Regions from separate parts of the Homo sapiens genome. Here region 2 is linked to region 1. Evidence: fine-mapped expression QTL. A gene starts in region 1. The other region holds a variant in brackets. All regions are shown on one strand. Distances are between the middles of the regions.

Evidence for each region. PIP is the estimated chance that this variant, and not a neighbour inherited with it, causes the effect.
Region 2: its variant is fine-mapped to the expression of RTL5 in gastroesophageal junction (GTEx, PIP above 0.99).

The regions. Positions count from the first base shown.
Region 1 is chrX:72,129,682-72,135,050 of GRCh38, reverse strand. It overlaps RTL5 (retrotransposon Gag like 5), which reads left to right and starts at 3,136. Exons shown (of 1, transcript NM_001405151.1): 1 at 3,136-5,369. The coding sequence starts at 3,511. The coding sequence ends at 5,220. NHSL2 (NHS like 2) reads right to left here. Exons shown (of 8, transcript NM_001013627.3): 2 at 2,817-2,972; 3 at 833-960; 4 at 347-542. RefSeq lists silencers at 3,056-3,115, 3,276-3,345.
Region 2 is chrX:72,098,059-72,103,427 of GRCh38, reverse strand. All of the region lies in intron 1 of NHSL2 (NHS like 2), which reads right to left. Among named protein-coding and RNA genes, the nearest start is that of RTL5, 31 kb to the left of the region's middle. RefSeq lists a silencer at 2,192-2,311. The variant C/T (reference allele first, on the strand shown) is at 2,804.

The DNA.
Region 1 (5,369 bases):
TTGTCTTGCCCTGACCCAAACAGAACTCACAAACTTTAAGTTTCCATAAGTGCTCTGAAGAGCACAGAAGTTCATAAGGCTTTGGAGCTTTCTGTTAAGAAAATTTTGCTTGCTATCAAATGGTCTCAGTTAGGGTGGCAGTGCCAGGAGGGGGTGAAGAAAGAGCAGCCAGCGCCCCCTCTTCTGCATGCCTCCGTTCCCTGGCAAGAGCCATGACCGTGACAGCGCAAGGTGAGCCGGTAGCAAAGAAAGTCTCACTTCCCTCCCCCAATACCCAGTGCATCAAAGAGGATGGTCTGTAGAGGCATGAAGGGAAGAAGACAAAGGCGGTGCTAAGCAACTCTACCAGAGATGTTGATGGGCACAATGTCAGACTGCGTGGAGCAAAGCTGAGGCCACCGCTTCTCCTCTAGGATGGGCAGAGGGAAAAGGCTATTCCAGGCAGTTTGCTTGTCGGCTGTGGTAGACAGGCTCAGGGAGGCCTCGGGGGCCCTCACACCCTGGGTGGTAGTCTCATCCTCGCTCAGCTGCCGTTTTGTAGGCTGTTGGGAGAGAAGGTGATGGAAAGGGTGTATTCCTGCCTGGCAATGAGCCAGTGCCCATAGGGTGGCTGTTTAGGCTGGGTAGTTGGAGGCTTCGTCTGGGAGGCAGGAAAGCGTGGACAGGCCACCAGGCCAGGCACCTGCTGTGCAGGGCCTATCCCAGTGGGGCCTCAGGGTAGCTCTGCTGGTGAGCAGGGCTGAGCAGCTTCCAGTGGGTAAAGTAAGCAGCTGGAGGTCTCTTGTCAGTGGGTGCATGCTGGCTCTCCCAGGTGGGGGATGAGGCAACTCACCATCAATATAAACTCCAGACGCCTGGCAGACTGGGGCCTTGGGTTGGGGGTGGGCTTAGTGGCCTCATCAGAAGAGCGGAAGGTCTGCCCCACAAGTCTGGCCTCCGAGTACTGTTCCTCATATTCTTCTGAAAAATAGCACAGTGGAGACACACACTCTAGGGTGCCATGGCCGAGCGCTGGGCCGGGGAAGGGCCATGAGCCAGGACTCCTGCTCTAGCTGCCAGGCCTGACTTGCATTTTCTTTAGGCTATTTCCAGGTGTTTGAGCCACTGGATTTGGAAATGGAAAAGTGCTTGCTTCCCAGGACCATGAGGATCGAGGAGAAGAGAAAGTCAATAAATTCATGCTGTGGTGGTTTGGGGACCAAGCCCTTATCTCAATGATCCCCACCTTGAGTGCTCAGTTACGAAAAGAGGCTCAGAATGCAGACACCTTTTGCTACTTTGGACTGCAAGTTCCTCTCTTTGAAGCCCTGCAGCTCTTAAGGTTTTCTGCGACCCTACCAAGGAAATGACCTGTGTGAAGCAAGAAGAGATTTACACCAGGAAGTCCAATCTGGAGTTCTTTCTTGGATGTCAAGAACTTTTACTTGAGCCTTTGTGGGCCGTGTTCCCTGCACCTTAGTCCCGCTGTAAGTGATGTCAGGTCTAGGAGGGCTAAGGTGAAGGAGAGGGAAGGAGGAGGTAACAGCATAAAAGAGGCAGAAGTTCAGCGGCATCATCAGTGAGTAAGGATGCACAAGATTTGAATAGGGTTGATTGAAGTGATGAATTTGATGAGAATACATGAAGAAAGTGAGAGTAGAGAAGGGACATTCATGCTGTATGTACACTGAACAAAGACTCAGAATCACAGAGATTTGGGGTTGCTCTTGGGGTTCTTTGGTCCAACGCCTCATTCTGTGCCCAGACTCCCTCCTCAGCAGCCCTTCTAGGTGTTTCTTCAGCCTCAGCGCACACACCTGCAGGGAAGGGGAGCTCCCTCCCTCCCAAGGCAGCTCATTTCTTCCACGGACAGTTGGGGCTGTCAGGTGTGTCAGAAAGTTCTTCCTTATCTGGAGGTGGAATGTGCCTCCTTCTGGGTTTCCACCCACTGGTCCTAATTCTGCCATGGTAGCAACACAGAGCACATCGACTCTTTTTCTGTGTGGCAAGTCCTTTGTTATCTGAACACAAGGCTCATGGTGTCCCTTGGCATCTTGCTTTTCCAAGGTCACCACTGCCCTGGTAGGGGGTGGGGGTTATGGCTGTCATCCTGTTGGTGGCCCATCAGCAGTTTTCTATTCGCCATTAGAGTTAACCTTTATTAGTATAGATAAAGGAGTGCTGACAAGACCTCTTTTCATGCTCAACATCCACTGAGCACCTCTTGGCAGGTGGGGAGGGAATCCAGCCTTGTGCCAGGTGCTTCTGGAAACCTAAGGGTAGCAAGATGTGATTCTTTACATCGAGAAGCTCAGGCTTGGTTAGGGGGGACAAAATAGGTGACCTCTGGGTGCTGTGTATTGGGCTTACTTTGGTGAGGCAGTAGCTATCCAGGGGTTATTGCAAGAGCAGAGTGAGTGAAGCCCAGAGTGGGAGATCCTGCAGATGCCCCCTTTGTCTTCTGGTGCCAGGATCCCAAAGGCATGGGCGATGTGGCAAGAGGGGGGCTGGAGGGAATGTAGGCCCACATTGTGGGAGTCTCCCACCCAGCTCTCGGTGAATGGCATAACTTATGGCCCTGCCTCAGTCTCTGTCCTTGTTTCCCCATGGGCTACTGAGCTGAAAAAAGGGGCTGGGGATGGGGGGAAACAGCCCTGGAAATAGCCTCTTTCAGAATCATTAGGCTGAAAGGTGAAAGCTGGAAACTGCTTTGTCGATTGTTTTTAAACTCTCTGTCTTTATCTTGCTGGTCCCTGTCCTCTTTCTTCTTTGCCTCCCTCCTGCCGCTGCGCATCTCGCTTCTGGGCTCCGGCCGCAGCCCCCCTCCCTCTCGGTACCTTGCAACAGGCTCTGGAGATTGAGCTGCGCCTCCCGAAGCAGCTCCTCTACACTCGGGGGCCTGCCCGAGGAGAGGAACACGTTCACTGGCTGTCGCCATGACGACCTCGAGTGGGCAGTCGCTGTCGCATTTTCCCGACCCGAGTTAGCTGCAGCTAGGGAAGGAGAGAGTCAGTGAGAGGCGCAGGCGAGCTGGAGGGGAGCGGCGCGCGGCGGCCAGTGGGCGCCCGCGGTTCCCCAAGGCCCGCCCCTGCGTGGGGTGGGGGGAGTGCGAGGCTGCGCTTAAAAGGCGGGGAATCGCCGGCCGCAAGATTTTTCCTCGACAGATCCTGCCGCAGTCCGCTCCCTCCCGCTCCGCTCGCCCCTGCCCGCCCGCCCGCCCGGTCGCGCGGTCGCCGCCGCCACCGTGTCGCCCGCATCCTCCGCCTGGCGCCTCCGGGCCCCGTGCCTCCGCCCGCCCTCTCCGGCCCCGGCGACGAGGTAACGCGCCCTGGGCCGAGCCGCCGGGCCCTCCGCCCAGAGCGCCGCCCTCCGAGCTCGCCCCGGTGGGTGTGGCCCGGCCTGGCCCGTGCCCCGCTGCCGCACTTCGGTCCCTCCCGAGCCCCGCCGCCGCATTTCGGCCTCCTCCGGCCGCCCGTAGTTCCAGTTCCCCTTTCCCCACCACGGAGCCCCAGGGCCCCTGGGCTTGTCGAGATGTCTGAGGCGTCAGGAAATCTCAACAGCCTCCGCATGGCGAATGTGGCCCTGCGCGAAGAATTAAATGCCCTTCGCGGGGAGAATGCCAATTTGGGCCTCCAGCTCGGGAGAGCCCTGGCCGAGGTTAATTCCTTGCGGGGCAATGTCTCCAGCTACATCCGCTGGCCAGTACCCATAGTGCCCGTCCTTGCGGAGGAGAACTTGGAGTTCGCGCTCAGTGAGATCGAAGTCATTCCCGGGGGAGAACTGCCCTTCTTGTGCCGGCCTCCCCCACGCGCGGAGCCCGACTGTATCTCGGATGATCTTTTGATTAACGTGATCCAGGATCGCAGCACCCCCGACGGGCCCGCTGACCCCCCTCTGCTGCCCATCCCGCCCCCGCCGGCGCTGCCTCCGCCCGCGTCAAAGGAACCGCCCCCGCAACCCCCTCTGGCACCGCTGGAGCGGCCTGAGATAGAGCCCTTTTCAGGAGACCCAGTCTACCTGGCTGAATTCCTGATGCAGCTAGAGACCTTCATAGCCGACCATGAGGTTCATTTCCCCGGGGGCGCCGAGCGGGTGGCCTTTCTGATCTCCTTTTTCACTGGCGAAGCCAAGGACTGGGCCATCTCGGTCACCCAGGAAGGAAGCCCCTTGCATGCCAACTTCCCGCGCTTCCTGGATGAAATCCGTAAGGAATTCTGTGGCCCCATCCCCCCACGTGTGGCTAAAAAGGCCATTCGCAAGCTCAAGCAGGGCCACTGTACCCTCGGCAGCTATGCAGATGCTTTTCAGTTCCTGGCCCAATTCTTGTCTTGGGATGACTGCCGCCTCCAAAACCAATTCCTCAAAGGCCTGTCGGAATTCTTCCGCAAAGAGCTCTTATGGTCAACAGAAATGGCCGACCTGGATGAGCTGATTCTCGAATGTGTGGAGATAGAAAGAAAAGTGCGCGTTCCCAAGCCTATCCCGCTCCCTGGAGTTCGAAATATCATCTTCCCTTTTGCTCCGAGTCCCAATGAGGAAGAAAGTGAAGATGAAGAGTACTACAGTGAAGATGAAGACCAAGAGGCACGCAGGCACAGGCTTCACTCCAAGGACCAGAGGAAGCGCATGAGGGCTTTTCAGCAAGAGATGAAGGAGAAGGAGGAGGAGGAGATGAAGAAGGAGGAAGAAATGAAGAAGAAGGAAGAGAAGGAGGAGGAGGAGGAAGAGGAAATGAAACAGAAAGAGGAGGAGGAGGAGATAAGGAACAAGAATGAGGAGGAAGGAGAGAGTAAGGATGAAGAAGATGAAGATGAGGATGGGGGCCAGAAACCAGAAGGAGAGCCACAGCAGGATCCAGGGACTGAGGAGACCTATGGTGAGGTGGAGGAGGAGCCACTGGATGAGGCCCAAGATGATGACCTAGATGAGCTGATGGAGATGGAGCCGACCTTTGTTCACGCGTCATCCCAGACTTCTGGCCCCACAAGTGGTTACCACGCCGAAAACTTCCTGGGTGCATCACCTCCCATAATACAGCCTAGCAGACGGAGGAACCAGAATCGAGTCCCACTTCTGGAAGGCCTTCCAGGCACCAATTCACCATTCTACAGCTCCCCCCAACTGATTCGCCGCACAGGTCGTTTAGGACAACGCCAAGTTCGAAGACGCCCCCCTGTGCTTTTCCGCCTCACTCCGAGACAGGGGGGCCACCGAGCTGCTCGTGGCCGAATTCGAGTTTGAGTGCTGGGGCCAGATGGCCACCCAGAACACACCCTTCTTTTGCATCCCCCGCCCCTGCTATTGCTGCCATACCTGCCCCATTTGCTGACCAGGACTTCAGGGAGTTTCAGACCTGCAGAACCTGAAGAAGACCTGCAGAATTCCAGACC
Region 2 (5,369 bases), 32 kb after region 1:
GAAACACTGCTTAGGAAGTTTATAACTGTTTGTTTAGTGCTTCAGTAGTCCTTGGCCTGGGGTGCCAGCAACGGAGGCAGAGCAAATCTGTGGGCACTTCTCTGGACTCTTCCCAGTCCCCTCTGGCCTGAAATCCCAGTGACCTTTACATCTAGGATTGGGATTGAGGGAGCGATGCATAATATGGTGAGAACCTTCCCCCACTCCCTCCACTGTGGCCACTGCAGCTATCAGTTCCAAATCCAAGCTTTCCCAGGCGTGGGACTTTGCTAGGTCAAGAGGAGCTACCTGGGCTTGATAGCTGCCACTAGGGAGGGAAAAGTTGGCAAGAAGCTGTTTTTAGTTTCCTCCAGATGTCTGCTGGCCTAGGACCCTTTGGCTCTGTCCCCCGGGAAGGAATGTTTGTCCTAGGCAGCCTCTGCTTTGCTACTGGAGCTAGGGAGTGGGTACTCCCATCTGGGGCAAGAGAATGTGCCAACTCCTACTGTGCTTTTGCGGGTTAATCATTTCCAGGTAGGAGCTGTCACGAGTCACCCTGGTGTTCACCTCCATTGCTTTCCATGAACCAGTCTAGTTTCCTAAAAATACCTGCTCCCTATTTCCCAGGCCAAAATGCTCCAGGAAATGCCTGCAGCCCACGATTGTCAGATAAGTGGCTTCTTCTGTTAGTTTGACCTGTATTCTGATGAAAGGGATTACTAATACTGCAAGAAACAATATTCTGTGACTTACAAATTATATCTGTTAAGAATAATGAATACTTATATAGGGCTATTTATTATACTTTATAGTTTATAAAGGCTACTTTATATATTAGGTTGAACCATACAAATTTGCTGGCATTTAAATGCTTTGGACAGTTTCATAGGATTCAACCTAACACATTTTCTCATTTATTCCTCACCATAATGCTGGGTAGGTATTTTTAGCCCCATTTTACAGAGTAGAGTACTAAATCTTAAGAGTGGTGAAATGACTTTTGACTAAGATTATATATACAGGAAATAGCAGGGTTGAGACTTGAACTAAGTCTGTCTGATGCCAACTCTCATGCTCTTGGTTCTCGAGGTAGGATGATTCAGCCTGGAAGACCACTGCAAGGCTTCGAGACTCCTAGACTACCCTCAGGAATCCCCTGGCTGGTTTCTCTTGTCACCTTTTCTTAGTGGGAGAGATCAGCAGGTGCATAGATGCCTGCAAATAGAAGGTTCTAAAGTGATGAGGTGACAAGTTCTAGTTTTAAGGCTTTGGGAGCCCTGAGGAGGTACAACAAAGACAATATCCAAAGCATGTTAATTCACCCATGCATTTATCCGTCCAAGAGAATGCTACTGGGTAGCTCCCATGCACGTGACAGGCTCTGCACTAGGTGCTAAGTTAGTGCAGAGCCTAGGCTGCCAACATTCAGGGAAGAGGCTTAATCAGCAGGGCTTCTACGCTTTGGCCAGCCTCAGGAGGGGGCTGAAGCAGTAGAGGCTGGGGTGAGATCACCATGTGCATGGGACTTAGATTTCCTGTGACACTGCTCTGTCTTCCTAGCCCAGGCATGATTTGGGAGGCCACAGCTTGTGTGACCAAGCAGAAAGAAGCTGGGCTGTTGCCTGGTGCTTCAGGAGTCTGATACCACTGAGAGTTTCTAGGCTGCAGGGCTGGAGGAGGCAGCAGTAGGAAGGGAAAAGGAATGCTGGTGTTCCACTCCTCGGCCTGGTAATGGGGAAGCTGGCAGGTGGGGCCGATGAAAAAGAGCTCCCTCCCAGGCAGCCACAGGAGGAAATTCCTTTCTCCTGTGCCTAGCTGCTCTGAACCCTCGGCTCCACCATGGGGTTGGGTCTTGTAGCTGGCCAGCTTGGGGAGAAAAGGCTGGGGGAGGGCTCGTTTAGAACTTAGGCAGTGGGCATGCGACCGCCACCTTTGTTTGGGGACAGCATGTTGTCCCGTGGGAGATAATCACATTTCTCAGCTTCCTGTCAATCCAGGGGCCGAGCACCCAAGCCTGCTGTGGAGTCCAAATGCTTCCCAAACCTGGCCTGACTCAGGCCAGGGCAAAACTGGCTGCTCCACCTGTCCCCAGTGCTCTCCAGCCACCTGCCTCCTCCCATTCTGCCGACACCCACCCAGACACCAAACCCCGAGCTCAAACCCTGATGCGAGTCTTCTTGCAGGATGCAATTGAGCCCATGCTTACCATTCCAGGCTCTAAGCTGTGCCGCCATGGCTGTCACCACTGCCGCCCAGGAGCACAGTGGCTCTGGGGCCACAGAGTTAAGATCTCACAGTTGAGTAAGCCACAATGTGGGTTCTTCACACCACACCCTCCCCAACCACAGTGGTAGGGATTTCCTCAGAGCCCCGTTGCCACACACTCTGCTTTTGAAAAAAAAAAAAAAAAGGAAACAGGCATTGGGTTTTGAGTGTGATGAGACGCTGTGAACAGAGATGCCTCTGAAAGCAAAGAAAGGGGAACCTGTGACAGACCTCAGATAATCACCTCGTGAGCACTCAGGCTCTTTCTATATCTCTGTGGCCATGCTACGGCTTGTGGAAAGGCCAGGGCCATTTGTACAGCAATATGCCACATAATGGCATGTAAGTTAACACAGCAGTCCCCAACCTTTTTGGCACTAGGGACTGGTTTTGTGGAAGACAATTTCTCCACGGACTTGGGTGGGGGCATGGATTCAGGATGAAACTGTTCCACCTCAGATCATCAGGCATTAGTTAGATTCTTATAAGGAGCAAGTAATTGAGATCCCTCACATGCACAGCTCACAGTAGGGTTCCTGCTCCTATGAGAATCTAATGC[C/T]GCTGCTGATCTGACAGGAGGTGGAGCTCAGGCGGTAATGCTCGCCCGCCTGCCACTCACCTCCTGCTGTGTGACCCAGTTCTTAACAGGTCATGGACTGGTACGGGTCCATGGCCCAGGGGTTGAGGACCCCTGCTTAATGGACTGCATATATGACAACTGCATATATGACAGTGGCCCCATTAGATGATACCATAGTTTTGCTCTATCTTTTCTAGGTTTAGTTATGTTTAGATACACAGATAAGTACCATCGTGTTACAACTGCCTGTAGTATTCAGCACAGTCACGTGCTGTATGGGTTTGTAGCCTTGGAGCCATAGGCTGTACCATATAGCCTAGGTGTGCAGCAGGCTACACTATCTAGGTCTGTGTAAGTACACTCTATGATGTTTGCACAATGAGGAAATCACCTAATGACGCATTTCTCTCGTAGCGTATCCCCATTGTGAAGCGAGGCCTGACTGTACTTGGCTCGGCTGTTCTGGTCTGCACTCAACCAGCATACGTTGAATTTATTGGAGTCCACAAACCAAGACCCTGAGAAGCTTCATGAGTTGCCTTGAGTGGTGAAGTTGAGGATTTTGTCCTCAATGTCTGACCTTCTAATCCATTCCTACCAACCACAGAGACACACAGCTCAGGTGACATTTTGAATCTCTCTGCCTGCTCAACTTCCACTGTTCAATACGGTAGCCAGAAGCCACATGTGGCTCTTAAGCTCTTGAAATTGGCAGTCTGAACTGAAATGTGCTGGATGTGTAAAACATACACCAGATTTCAAAGACTGAATATGAAACAAAGAATGTAAAGTATCCCATTAATAATTTTTAATATTTGATTACATTGTAAGACACTATTTTTGATATATTGGAGTAAATTAAATATATTATTAAAATTAATTTCACCTTTTTCTTTTTACTTTTTAAATGTGGCTACTAGAAATGGGGATACTGGTGGCCGGCGTGGCGGCTCACGCCTGCAATCCCAGCACTTTGGGAGGCTGAGGTGGGTGGATCATGCGGTCAGGAGTTTGAGACCAGCCTGACCAATATGGTGAAATCCCATCTCTACTAAAAATACAAATAAAAAATTAGCCAGGTGTGGTGGTGGGGGCCTGTAATCCCAGCTACTCAGGAGGCTGAGGCAGGAGAATTGCTTGAACCCGGGAGGCAGAGGTTGCAGTGAGCCGAGAATGCACCACTGCACTCCAGCCTGGGTGACAGAGTGAGACTCCGTCTCAAAAAAAAAAAAAAAAAAAAAATTCCTACACAAGGGGATACTGGTGCCAAAATTGGCAAATAGATGAATGAAATAAAATAGTTCAAAACAAACTTATGTATATATGAGCATTTAGGATATAATAAAGGTGGCATTTCAAATCAGCTGGGGAGGGGAATGTAGCTACTAAGACAAAATTCAAAATTCCATAAGTGGCTGGCATTTGTGGCCCACATTATATTTCTATTGGATAGTGTGGTGCTAGACTTTCTATTTTACCTAAATGTCCATTAACAAGGGATGGGTTCCACACATCATGGTGCATCTACACAAGGGGATGATATGCAGCCATTAAGAAGAATGAAGGATATCTCTTTGAGTAGAAACTAGAAAACTGCAGAGTTATTGGTAAGTTGAAAAAAATGGGCAAGGAATGGGCCAGTATGTATTGTATGATCTCATTTGTGTATCAAAAGCACACAGATGCTTATATATGCACGGAATAAGTTTGCAAGGACACACAAGTAACTGTTATTCTAGATGATTTTGACATGTATGTTTCACTTGAAACTCTCCAGTACTATTTGAAATTTTAACAACAAACGTGTCATTTTACAATAACAAACCATTAAATATATTTATTTTCATATATTTAAAAATAACATATAATGGTTTACGTAACATAAAACTATTAAAATAAAAAATAAATAAAATAAAATTTTAAAAATCAGAGTTTCTATTATTCAATTCATAGCTTTATTTCTATTCCTCCACTTGTAAACACCCCTTTCAACTTCTTCTCTCTTTCTTTTTTTTTTTTTTTTGAGACGGAGTCTTGCTCTGTCACCCAGGCTGGGGTGCAGTGGCGCAATCTTCGCTCACTGCAAGCTCCGTCTCCCGGGTTCACGCCATTCTCCTGCCTCAGCCAGCTGAGTAGCTGGGACTACAGGCGCCCGCCACCACGCCCGGCTAATTTTTTTGTATTTTTAGTAGAGACGGGGTTTCACCGTGTTAGCCAGGATGGTCTCGGTCTCCTGACCTCGTGATCCACCCGTCTCGGCTTCCCAAAGTGCTGGGATTACAGGCGTGAGCCACCGCGCCCGGCCAACTTCCTCTTTCTTATTCCTCCCTTTCTGTCCTATTCTTTCCAAACCTTCTCTTTCCTCTCTCCTTCAAAACCCACAAGGGTCTATGAATGAGGAGCCATTCCACTTCTGTTGGCTCCCCTTGCTCAACTGCTGCCTCTGTCTTCCCGCCAAGGAAGAGCCTGAGGAAGGGCACCATGTTGGTTGGGTACTGCTCGATTCCAGACACAATAATCAAAGATGGCCGCTGTGGAGAAAGAG